Homo sapiens: one gene and its partner. The protein of the gene in region 1 purifies or fractionates together with the protein of each later gene. This does not show direct contact. Each region holds a gene or a part of one and is shown on either strand. Other genes may lie near its edges. The genes, in order: NIPSNAP1 and KLHL22.

Evidence for each region.
Region 2: the proteins of NIPSNAP1 (region 1) and KLHL22 purify together in Homo sapiens (co-immunoprecipitation; 2 studies listed by IntAct). This does not show direct contact.

The regions. Positions count from the first base shown.
Region 1 is NC_000022.11:29,577,892-29,586,095, reverse strand, and holds the start of NIPSNAP1 (protein NipSnap homolog 1), read left to right. Parts: upstream 1-4,982; 5' UTR 4,983-5,013; coding exon 5,014-5,111; intron 5,112-8,204.
Region 2 is NC_000022.11:20,440,814-20,443,945, reverse strand, and holds the end of KLHL22 (kelch-like protein 22), read left to right. Parts: intron 1-742; exon of another isoform or gene 743-1,122; intron 1,123-1,507; coding exon 1,508-1,873; 3' UTR 1,874-2,427; downstream 2,428-3,132. UniProt on the Homo sapiens protein: Substrate-specific adapter of a BCR (BTB-CUL3-RBX1) E3 ubiquitin ligase complex required for chromosome alignment and localization of PLK1 at kinetochores.

The DNA of each region.
Region 1 (8,204 bases):
GCTCCCTTTCAAGGAGGGTAAATAGGGCCAGGCACGGTGGCTCACGCCTGTAATCCCAGCACTTTGGGAGGCCAAGGCGGGCGGATCACGAGGTCAGGAGATCGAGACCATCCTGGCTAACACAGTGAAACCCCGTCTCTACTAAAAATACAAAAAAAAATTAGCTGGGCGTGGTGGTGGGCACCTGTAGTCCCAGCTAGACGGGAGGCTGAGGTAGGAGAATGGCCTGAACCTGGGAGGCAGAGCTTGCAGTGAGCCGAGATTGCGCCACTACACTCCAGCCTGGGCAACAGAGCGAGACTCCATCTCAAAAAAAAAAAAAAAAAAAAAAAAAAGGAGGGTAAATAGATTTAGTTAAGCAAGGAAAAGATTCTGGGATGGAGTGGGTATATCTCCTGGGGAGAGAACTAGGGCCGTAATTGGGGTGACCAAAGGTTCTGGCTTGTCCAGGACTGAGGGGTTTTCTGGGATGGAGGACTTTCAGTGCTAAAACTGAGAAAGTCCAGGATAAACTGGGATATGTGGTTGCCCTAGCTGAGGTGGGAGTAGGGGCCTTGAGGTTGCCCTTCTAGTCAGCGGCCACACTGTGGTTCATGTGGGTTGGGGAGGGATGCCCATATCCCATCTCTCCCAGGCAGGGGTGGAAGCATGCTCCCAGCACCACCTTTTTTCACCCTCCTGCCCTATTTGGCTGGACAGAGATGGAAAACCCTTCTTAGAAATGCTAAGACCCACAGGAGGAGGCTGCAGGTCAGTCCTCCCTCATTCTCCTCACCTGGGAGGCAGTGTGAGGCAGCCAGGAATGCCAAGGCTTTGGTGAGAGCCTCTCACCCTAAACCACCAAGGCCGGCTCCTCCCTGTCCTTGGGTCCAGCTTGCTGTGGCCTGACTGCCAAATGCCCTCTACCACATAGCCAACGTGCTGCTACTCGGCCTCTGTTGACACAATTCAATGACATGCCACCAAGGCAGCCCATTCCATTGTTAGAAAATTATTCCAGCCAGGTGCGGTGGCTCACACTTGTAATTCCAGCACTTTGGGAGGCTGAGGTGGGTGGATCATTTGAGGTCAGGAGTTCAAGACCGGCCTGGCCAATGTGGTGAAATCCCATCTCTACTAAAAATACAAAAATTAGCTGGATGTGGTAATGCAAGCCTGTAATCCCAGCTATGCGGGAGGCTAAAGCAGGATAATCGCTTGAGCCTAGGAGGTGGAGGTTGCAGTGAGCTGAGATCACGCCATTGCACTCCAGCCTGGGCGACAGAGTGAGACCCTGTCTCAAAAAAAAAAAAAAAAAAAAGAGAAACAAAATTATTCCTGTACTGAATGAGAGGCTGCCATCACATAATCTCCACCCATTCATTATATTCAACTGTGCTTTCTTCCTGGAAGAGCCCTCAACACACACCCCTCATTTTTTTTTTTTTTTTTTTTTTTTTGAGACAGAGTATTGCTGTCACCCAGGCTGGAGTGCAGTGGCACAATCTCCACTCACTGCAACCTCTGCCTCCTGGGATCAAGCCATTCTCATACTTCAGCCTCCAGAGTAGCTGGGACCACAGGTGTGGCTACCATGACTGGCTAACTTTTTGTATTTTTAATAGAGATCGGGTTTTGCCATGTTGGCCAGACTGGTCTCAAACTCTTGGCCTTAATTGATCCACCTGCCTCGGCCTCCCAAAGTGCTGGGATTACAGGCGTGAGCCACCGCGCCTGGCCTCTGGCAGCCCCTTCACATACTGAGTACACATTGCTTCCTCTGAGTTTCCGCTGGTCCTTCCCTCTCTCCTGGCAGACTCCTACTCATCCTTTGAAGCTCAGGTCCAAAGTCAGGTTGGCGGAGGTGGTCACTTCCACCACTCCACAGTCAGTCTGCCACGCTGGGTTCCTAAGGAAAGAGCTGCTCCCACCACATGACACCATTTGCTGTGCTTCCATCAACCCACCTGGGTTTTTCCTGAGTGGCTTTGACTGGGGACTCTGCTAAGATCATACTGACTTTGATTTTTTTTTTTTTTTCGAGATGGAATCTCTATCACCCAGGCTGGAGTGCAGTGGCGCGATCTTGGCTCACTGCAACCTCTGCCTCCTGGGTTTAAGCCATGTTCCTGACTCAGTCTCCGGAGTAGCTGGGGTTACAGGTGTGCGTCACCATGCCATGCCTGGCTAATTTTTGTATTTTTATTTTTTATTTTATTTATTTGTTTGTTTTGTTGAGACGGAGTTTCGCTCTTGTTTCCCAGGCTGGAGTGCAATGGCGCGATCTTGGCTCACTAAAATCTCTGCCTCCTGGGTTCAAGTGATTCTCCTGCCTCAGCCTCCTGAGTAGCTGGGATTGCAGGCACATGCCACCACATCCGGCTAATTTTTATATTTTTAGTAGAGATGGGGTTTCATCATATTGATCAGGCTGGTCTCGAACCCCTGACCTCAGGTGATTCCCCTGCCTTGGCCTCCCAAACTGCTGGGATTACAGGCATGAGCCACTGCGCCCGGCCTAATTTTTGTATTTTTAGTAGAGATGGGGTTTCACCATGTTGGCCAGGCTGGTCTCGAACTCCTGACCTCAGGTGATCCACCCACCTTGGCTTCCCAAAGTGCTGGATTTACTGGCATGAGCCACCGCACCCAGCCTGATTTATTTATTTAATTAAAAAATCATAACTCACTACAGCCTGGACCTCCTACCTCAAGTGATTTTCCTGCCTCAGCCTCCTGAGTAGCTGGGACTACAGGTGTGTGCTACCATGCTCAGCTAATTTTTTGAATTTTCATAGATCCTCCTGCCTTGGCCTCCCAAAGTGCTGGGATTACAGGCATGAGCCACCACACGTGGTCCTAATCTTAAAATTATTATTATTTTTTTATAGAGACTGGGTCTTGCTCTGTTGCCCAGGCTGGAGCGCAGTGGTGCAATCATGGCCTGGCCTCCACTCCCCCCATGCCAAGCATAACAGGAGGCAACCACTAGTCAGTGGGTGGACATTCTTTTGGGGAGCTGTCCCTGCCCCTTTGGAAGTGGATAGAGCCCCTGCCCCCTGTGGGGTCTGCAGGCTCTCCACCCCTGCCAATGTCTGTGATCTGGGGGATTGTGGGCTGAGAAGGGATTAGTTTAGAGGGCGGGCAAAAGAGCTGGGCAGGGCAGAAAGAGGCCCCAGGATTTTCAGGCAGAGAAGTCAAAGGGGGATGAAAAGGGGAAAGGAGATGGTGGAGATAAAGTGTCTGCAGCTGACAGCCTTGCCCCTGTCTTCACTTGTAAGGAAGTTTGTTTCTTTGATGGTGATAAACCTGGCATGTGAATGCCTTTCCCCAGAGAATGCACCACAGAGGAGCACGTAACGTTGTATACAATTTCAGGGGGCTTACTGATGCAACCCCTTTGCAGAAATTTTAACAGTGAGAAAATTATGACAGTGAAAGTGATCTGACCTAACCGACTCCATTTTGCTTCTAACCCCCAAACTGTCCATATTCATTCCTGGGCATAGGCCAAACTTACAGTCTTTTTGTTTGTTTTTTGAGACGGAGTTTCGCTCTTGTTGCCCAGGCTGGAGTGCAGTGGCGCGATCTCGGCTCACTGCAACCTCTGCCTCCAGGGTTCAAGAGATTCTCCTGCCTCAGCCTCCCGAGTAACTGGGATTACAGGTGCCCGCCACCATGCCTGGCTAATTTTTTTGTATTTTTAGTAGAGACGGGGTTTCACCCTGTTGGCCAGGCTGGTCTTGAACTCTTGACCTAAACTTCTGATCCACCTTTGCCTCCCAAAATGCTGGGATTACAGGCATGAGCCACCATGCCCGGCAGCAAATTTATAGTTCAACTTTGAAACAAAGATAACAGCCCTCTCCCAAAATAAACCCCTTTCTTGCCTGGGGACCAGACTGCTTTTGTAAGACTAACAAATTAGCCACGAGATTAGAAATTACGGTTTAGGAGTCATGCAGGTAGTGGCCACAGATTCTAAACCTCCCCAGTTGCTCCTAGGGATAACATCACTACTGTAAAACCTAAGATTGGTGCTCAAGATATTTTTCCGATCCTGCACTCAATGGATCCGCTGGCGATACACAGATTAAGAAACCGGATCATCCGGTTTTGTGGCCCCCACCCAGAGATCCACTCAGCACAAGAGGACGGCTTCCACTCCCTATGATTGCATCTCCGACCTGACCAATCAGCACTCTCCACTCTCTGGCCCCTACCCACCAAATTATCCTTAATAAAACCCAGTCTCCGAATTTTCAGGGAGACTGATTTGAGTAATAATAAAACTCCGGTCTCCCATTCAGCCGGCTCTGCATGAATTAAACTCTTATTGCAATTCCTCTGTCTTGATAAATCCGCTGTCTGGGAAACGGGCAAAATGAACCCATGGGGTGGTTACACTGACCCTCTGCTGCACATCCCGGACAGCCTTGTTAAGAACCCTTGGTAGGCTGGGCATGGTGGCTCACGCCTGTAATCCCAGCACTTTGGGAGCACGAGGCAGGCAGATCACGAGGTCAGGAGATCGAGACCATCCTGGCTAACACGGTGAAACCCCGTTTCTACTAAAAATACAAAAAATTAGCTGGGCGTGGTGGCAGACGCCTGTAGTTCCAGCTACTCGGGAGGCTGAGGCAGGAGAATGGCGTGAACCCAGGAGGCGGAGCTTGCAGTGGGCCGAGATCGCGCCACTGCGCTCCAGCCTGGGCGACAGAGCGAGACTCCGTCTCAAAAAAAAAAAAAAAAAAAAAAAGAACCCTTGGTATTATTGTTCCACGCTCCCATTTTACCGAGGTGGATCCTGAGGCCCAGAGTGGGCAAAGGGCTTGCCAAGGTCGCAGAGCGCGCAGAGGATTAGAACCCTGACTTCCGTCCAGCACCTGCGGAGTTGGAGACGCCCACAGGAAACGCCCACCTGACCGGGTGAGTGAGGGGGCGGGCGAGCCGGAGGGGTGGAGTTTATTCGCGCCCCGCCTCCGCCACCAGGGCTTGGGGGCGGGGCCTTCCTGCAACCTTTGCGGCTCCAACATGGCTCCGCGGCTGTGCAGCATCTCTGTGACGGCGCGGCGGCTGCTGGGGGGCCCGGGGCCTCGCGCTGGGGACGTTGCGTCTGCAGCTGCGGCGCGGTGAGAGCCCGGCCAGGCAGGGATAGACGCGCGCGGGGTGGGGTGCAGGCGCGGGGGCCAGGGACTGGGTCGTGGGGGAGGGGCTGAGACTCCTCGCTTGGAATCTGGGGGTTAGAGGCGGGGCAGGATCAAGGCCTAGGGAGGGGTCTGGGCAAAGAATGGGGGAGGTGAGAAAGGGATGGGTAGGGTCTTTGTCCTGGTTGGGACCGGGCTGTGATGGGGACCTGATGAAAGATGGTGAGAAGGGCAGGTACTGGGCCCTGGAGAGTGGGAGAGGGCAGAAGACAGGAGGAGTGGCCCATTCCCAGGCGTAGCTTGTGATTTAACACCCACTGGGGGCTTCTGGTAGTCAGCTCCTCCGTCGGGAAGTTCTGTGGGAAAGAGATGATGGCAGGGGAGCAGTGGGGGATCCCCAGGGGCCATGGCTGCACAGACCCTTTGTTCCTCCACCTCGAACTGTACAGGTGGGGAAACGGACCTGAGAGGGAATGGGAGTTGTCCAAGGTCACCCTCCCTGCTGTGCCGTGGCAGCACCAGGTCTGGGACCCAGGCCTGCCAATGCGCCATGCACTTTGCACCCAACTGGTGGCCTCCTGGGAGTGGGAGTCTGGCTGGGCCATGTGCTCTCAGCCTGGGCTTTTGTTTGGGCCCTGCTCTGGGCTGAGCTAGGGCTTGGCCTCCCTGACTGGCCCTGGGCAGCCCCTCACTCCTTGGTCCCCACAGCCCTGTACTTCCCCCATCTCTGCATATATGACCCTGCACAGTTATGACTTGGTGCTTGTCTGTCTCTCTCACTAGACCATGATCTCATTTTTCTCTGTTTCCCCAGCCTCCCACCCTCAGAGGGCTCAGGACTGTGTATGGTCAAGGAATATTTACCAAAGAAGTGAGGCCACCTGTTCCCCCTCCCCCAACCTGTGAAAAGGAAGCAACCATCCCTCCTGCCCTGCAGCCCAGGAATGAAGCTGCAAAGTTCTGATAGTGCCTGCCATGAGATGTTACAGCACAGAGCAGTGGGGCTTTTGGACAGCTGGGAAAGAGGAGTGGCATAAGCGCCCCACCTAGACTGCCCAATAATTAGGGATAAAGCTGACACCGTGGGAAAAGCCTAGAGTTTGCCTGGCACTAACAGATCTAACTCAGACTTTGTAGGTGGGGTGACCTCAGGACTCTTTAAGCCTCGGGTTCCTCATCTGTAAAATGGGAGTAATCAGGATGTATCTCATAGGGTTGTTGAGGATTAAAGATGCTGTGGTTGGTCGGGTATGGTGGCTCATGCCTGTAATCCCAGCACTTTGGGAGGCCGAGGCAGGCAGATCACTTGAGGTCAGCAGTTCAAGACCAGCTTGGCAACACGGCGAGATCCTGTCTCTATAAAAAGTACAAAAATGGCCGGGCGCGGTGGCTCACGCCTGTAATCCCAGCACTTTGGGAGGCCGAGGCGGTGGATCACGAGGTCAGGAGATCGAGACCATCCTGGCTAACACGGTGAAACCCCATCTCTACTAAAAATACAAAAAATTAGCTGGGCGCGGTGGCAGGCGCCTGTAGTCCCAGCTACTCAGGAGGCTGAGGCAGGAGAATGGCGTGAACCCAGGAGGCGGAGCTTGCAGTGAGCCGAGATCCTGCCACTGCACTCCAGCCTGGGCGACAAGAGTGAGACTCTGTCTCAAAAAAAAAAAAAAAAAAAAAAAAGTACAAAAATTTCACCATGTTGGTGAAAACGTGTCTCTACTAAAAATACAATTAGCTGGGTGTGATGGCTCACCCCTGTAATCCCAGCTACTAGGAAGCTGAGGCAGGAGAATCAATTGAACCCGGGAGACAGAGGTTGCAGTGAGCCGAGATCACGCTACTGCACTCCAACCCGGGTGACAGAGCGAGACTCCGTCTACAAAAAAAAAAGATTCCGTGGTTGTGAAGTGTCTAGCACTTGACGAACATGCAGTAAGTGTTGCTCCTTAACCCCTAGCCTATGTTTCAAGCAATTTCTGCATGTGACCCACATAATGTTGAGGCTCAAAGGGCTCTGGGAAGATCATCTTTTATGAGCCCTTTGTTTTCCAGATAAAAATATCAAGATTGGGGAAGGGACAGAATGGATTGGTGGTAAAACCATTTGTGTGGCAAACACCCAGAGGCTGTAAAAGGAGCATGGGTCTCAGAGTCAGCCTGCTGCCCCTCACTCAGTGACCCTGGATGAGTTGCTGAACCTCCGTCAGCCTCAGTTTCCTTTTCTGTAAAGTGGGGATGTTGGTGTTTTCGGCAGGATTGCTATGAAGCCACTTGAATTAATGTTTATCAAGTCCCTCAAGGACTGTCTTGCAGTTACTTATACCTTAATTCCACATTGGATACCTGAGAACACTCTGTCCTGCTGCCCCTCAGGCTGCCCCATATCTCTCCAGAGTCACTAGTAGGGCCAGCAGCAGCCCTTCTGGCCTGTGAGGTTTGGGGGCAATGAGGCTGCTGGGGTGGGGATGGAGTGTGGGCTTTGAAATCAGATGGACCTGGGCCAGGCACCATTGCTCACGCCTGTAATCCCAACACTTCGGTAGGCCAAGGTGGGAGGATTGCTTGAACCCAGGAGTTTGAGACCAGCCTGGGCAACATGGCGAGATCCTGTCTCTATAAAAAATACAAAAATTTGGCCAGGCACAGTGGGTCATGCCTGTAATCCCAGCACTTTAGGAGGCTGAGGCGGGTGGATCACCTGAGGCCAGGAGTTCAAGACCAGCTTGGCCAACATGGTGAAACCCCATCTCTACTAAAAACACAAAAATTAGCCAGGCCAGGCCTGGTGACTCCCACCTGTAATCCTAGCACTTTGGGAGGCCCAGGCAGGCGGATCATGAGGTCAGGTATTCAAGACCAGCCTGGCCAACATGGTGAAACCCCGTCTTTATTAAAAATACAAAAATTAGCTGGGCATGGTGTGTGCGCCTGTAATCCCAGCTACTCTGGAGGCTGAGGCAGGAGAATCGCTTAAACCAGGGAGGTGGAGGTTGCAGTGAGCTGAGATCGCACCAGTGCACTCCAGCCTGGGTGATAGAGCAAGACTCTGTCTCAAAAAAAAAAAAAAAAAAAAATTAG
Region 2 (3,132 bases), 9.1 Mb from region 1:
CGGAGTAGCTAGGAGGACTACAGGTGTTCGCCACCACACCTAGCTAATTTTTCTATTTTTAGTAGAGACGGGGTTTTGCCATGTCGGCCAGGCTGGTCTCAAACTCCTGACCTCAGGTGATCCACGCACCTCAGCCTCCCAAAGTGCTAGGATTACAGGCGTGAGCCACCACCCCCGGCCTCCCCTTCCACTTTTTTTGTTTGTTTGTTTGAGACAGAGTCTCGCTCTGTCGCCAGGCTGGAGTGCAGTGGTGCTCTTGGCTCACTGCACCCTTTGCCTCCTGGGTTCAAGTGATTCTCCTGCCTCAGCCTCCCGAGTAGCTGGGGTTACAGGCATGTGCCACCATGCCCAGCTGATTTTTGTATTTTTAGTAGAGACGAGGTTTCACCATGTTGGCCAGGATGGTCTTGATCTCTTGACCTTGTGATCAGCCCGCCTTGGCCTCCCAAAGTGCTGGGATTACAGGCGTGAGCCACCACGCCCGGCCTCTCCCCTTCCACTTTTAAGGGCTCATGCAATTGGATGGATCACCTGGAAAATCCAGGAAAACTGCCCCATCTCAGGGTCTGCACCCTTAATCCTTTTTTTTTTTGTATTCTTGTACCCTTGATCCTATCTGCAAAGCCCCTTTGGCTGCTTAAGGTAGCATATTCTGGAGATTAGGAACTAGACATCTTTGGGGGCCACTATTCTGCCCACCATAGCTAGAGAACCAAAAACGGCTAATCAGTCAAGAAGGTAAGATTTTTATGGCTCTTAATACTTATTGCCAAATTCCTTTTCTGGCATGTCAGACAGATACATAGTAGTATGGCTTTACCACACCCTCAACAGCATTGGGTTTTGTGATTTTCCTTCTCTGCAGTGGTTGCTAGTTGAAAAATTTGTCTCTGATGTTTTGATTTTGCGTTTCTTGAATTACTAGTAGGTTGAACATTTTTCCATGTCTTTGTTTACTGTTTGGACAATTTTGAAGACAAGAGAATATTGATGTTGACTACTCCGCAAGGAATTACTTCCACTTTCTGTCTCCTCCCCCTGTCCTACTGCCTGTGTTGAGTGCTGCAGAAGGAGGTTGAAGACATTTCAGTGGAGTCCATGTCTCTCAGGCAGCTTCGTTTCCTGGAGGGGAGAGAAGCAGTGCCCTCAGACATGGGGAATGACCACATGCTGATGGGGGCACAGCCACACACTCGGGGGCAGAGACTGGCTTAGGGCCGGGTGGCCTAGAGGAAGGGCTGGGCTGGAGCAAAGCCAGAGAGAATAGGATCATTCTAGGGGAGGGCCCAAAAGACAGCCTCCTGCAGACTCGGCCATCCCTGGGTGAGAAAGCAGCAGCCTGGCCCATGGACAGGATGTTTCAACACTGGCCCTGTGCCATCCTTCCAGGGGGCCTGACCTGTCAGAATGGTGGGTAACTGTTGCCACCTTGGTCAGTGGGCTTGTGGGGGAGCTGGCAGCCTCGTCCCAGTGGGTGCTGGGCTTTATTCTAGCCTTGGCTTTGCAGGTGGCCTGCTACAGCTGCACGTCTGGACAGTGGTCATCTGTCTGCCCACTCCCTGCTGGGCACGGTGAGCCTGGCATTGCTGTGCTGGACAACAGGATCTATGTGTTAGGTGGCCGCTCACACAACCGCGGCAGCCGCACAGGCTACGTGCACATTTACGATGTGGAGAAGGACTGCTGGGAGGAAGGGCCCCAGCTGGACAACTCCATCTCAGGCCTGGCGGCCTGTGTGCTCACCCTGCCCCGCTCCCTGCTCCTTGAGCCGCCCCGCGGGACCCCTGACCGCAGCCAGGCCGACCCGGACTTTGCCTCTGAGGTGATGAGTGTGTCTGACTGGGAGGAGTTTGACAACTCCAGTGAGGACTAGGCTCCCTGTGCCTGGCATCAGAGGGAAGGGAGGCTGGGGCTGCAGGGCAGTGAAACCCACGCAGCCTAGGCCAGAGCACTTTACTCCAGGCAGGGCCCCTGCCCCTGTTGGCCACAGCTTATGGGCCCTGCCCTCTTTCTTCACACCAGCCCCTTGGCCAGCCTGCCGCAGGCATCTCAGGGCCATGCAGATCCCAGGCTGTGGATTACGTCACTGCAGGAACTGCTTCTGAAAGGCTTTGGCCTTCCTCAGTGAGCCCTGGAGGGGTTGGCCTTCTCTCCTCCCTGCCTAGATCAGTCCTTCTCCAAAAGGACCTGGGAGCTGGCAGCCTGGGCAGGGGGGCTGAGGCACGTGGTAGCCCTCTTTCTGTGAATGGGGTGGGGCTGTGGGGGCAGCTGGGGTTGGAGGATGAGAGCTCCTGAGGGGCAGAGGAGCAGAGATGCATCAGCTCGCCTGGGACTGGCTCTGTGATAAAAAGACCCCTCCCGCTGGGTTTTCAGACCCCATGTTGTTGGTCAATGAAATAAAGCATCTTACAGAAGGTGTTAACTGTTTTTCTGTAGCCACAGCCTCAGTTCCTTTCCACAGTGCACCCAAGCTGCGTCCCCAGGAAGCGTGGCTTCTGGGGTCAGAGCTGCCATCTGGGAGAGGCTGTGGAAGCCCAGGCCAGAAGCCAAGTGGCACTGGGAAGACCCTGCCTGAGAGGGAAGCACAGTAAACTCCACAAGCTAACAGGGCACTCAGTGGGAAAGCTGGAACTCGCCCTGGTCTGGTGACAGGTGGTTGTGCAGCCACTTGAGTGTCTTCTCTGGTGTGGAACTTGTCTCCCAACCAGGGCAGCACGCAGAGTTTCAGCCCAGCTCGTTAGGAGTCTCTCAGCCTGAGGGTCAGGGAACCAGAGCTTCAGCACCTGGGAGCGGGGCAGCATCAGGGGGTCGGTGGGGGGGGCCCCTCTGGCCTGTGCCCGGCTCCTCCCAACCTCCTGAAGCTGAGTGTGCTGGGGAGGGGAGCTGCATGTGCTACAGGTTTGCCAGGTAACCCTTAGGCACCCAGTCTCAAGGACCACACTGGCACAGCAGCTGGGACCCTCCCCTGTTCACCTGTCCCCATGCTTTTCTTGCCCTCTTGAGACTGCCAGGCTTAGCCTGCACCCTGCATGGATGGGCTGTGAGCCCACACCAGCCTCACTGCAGGGCTGCACCACACGAAGCTTTCTTCCATCCTGATGCCCTCATAGGGTCTGCACCTGCAGACTCCTA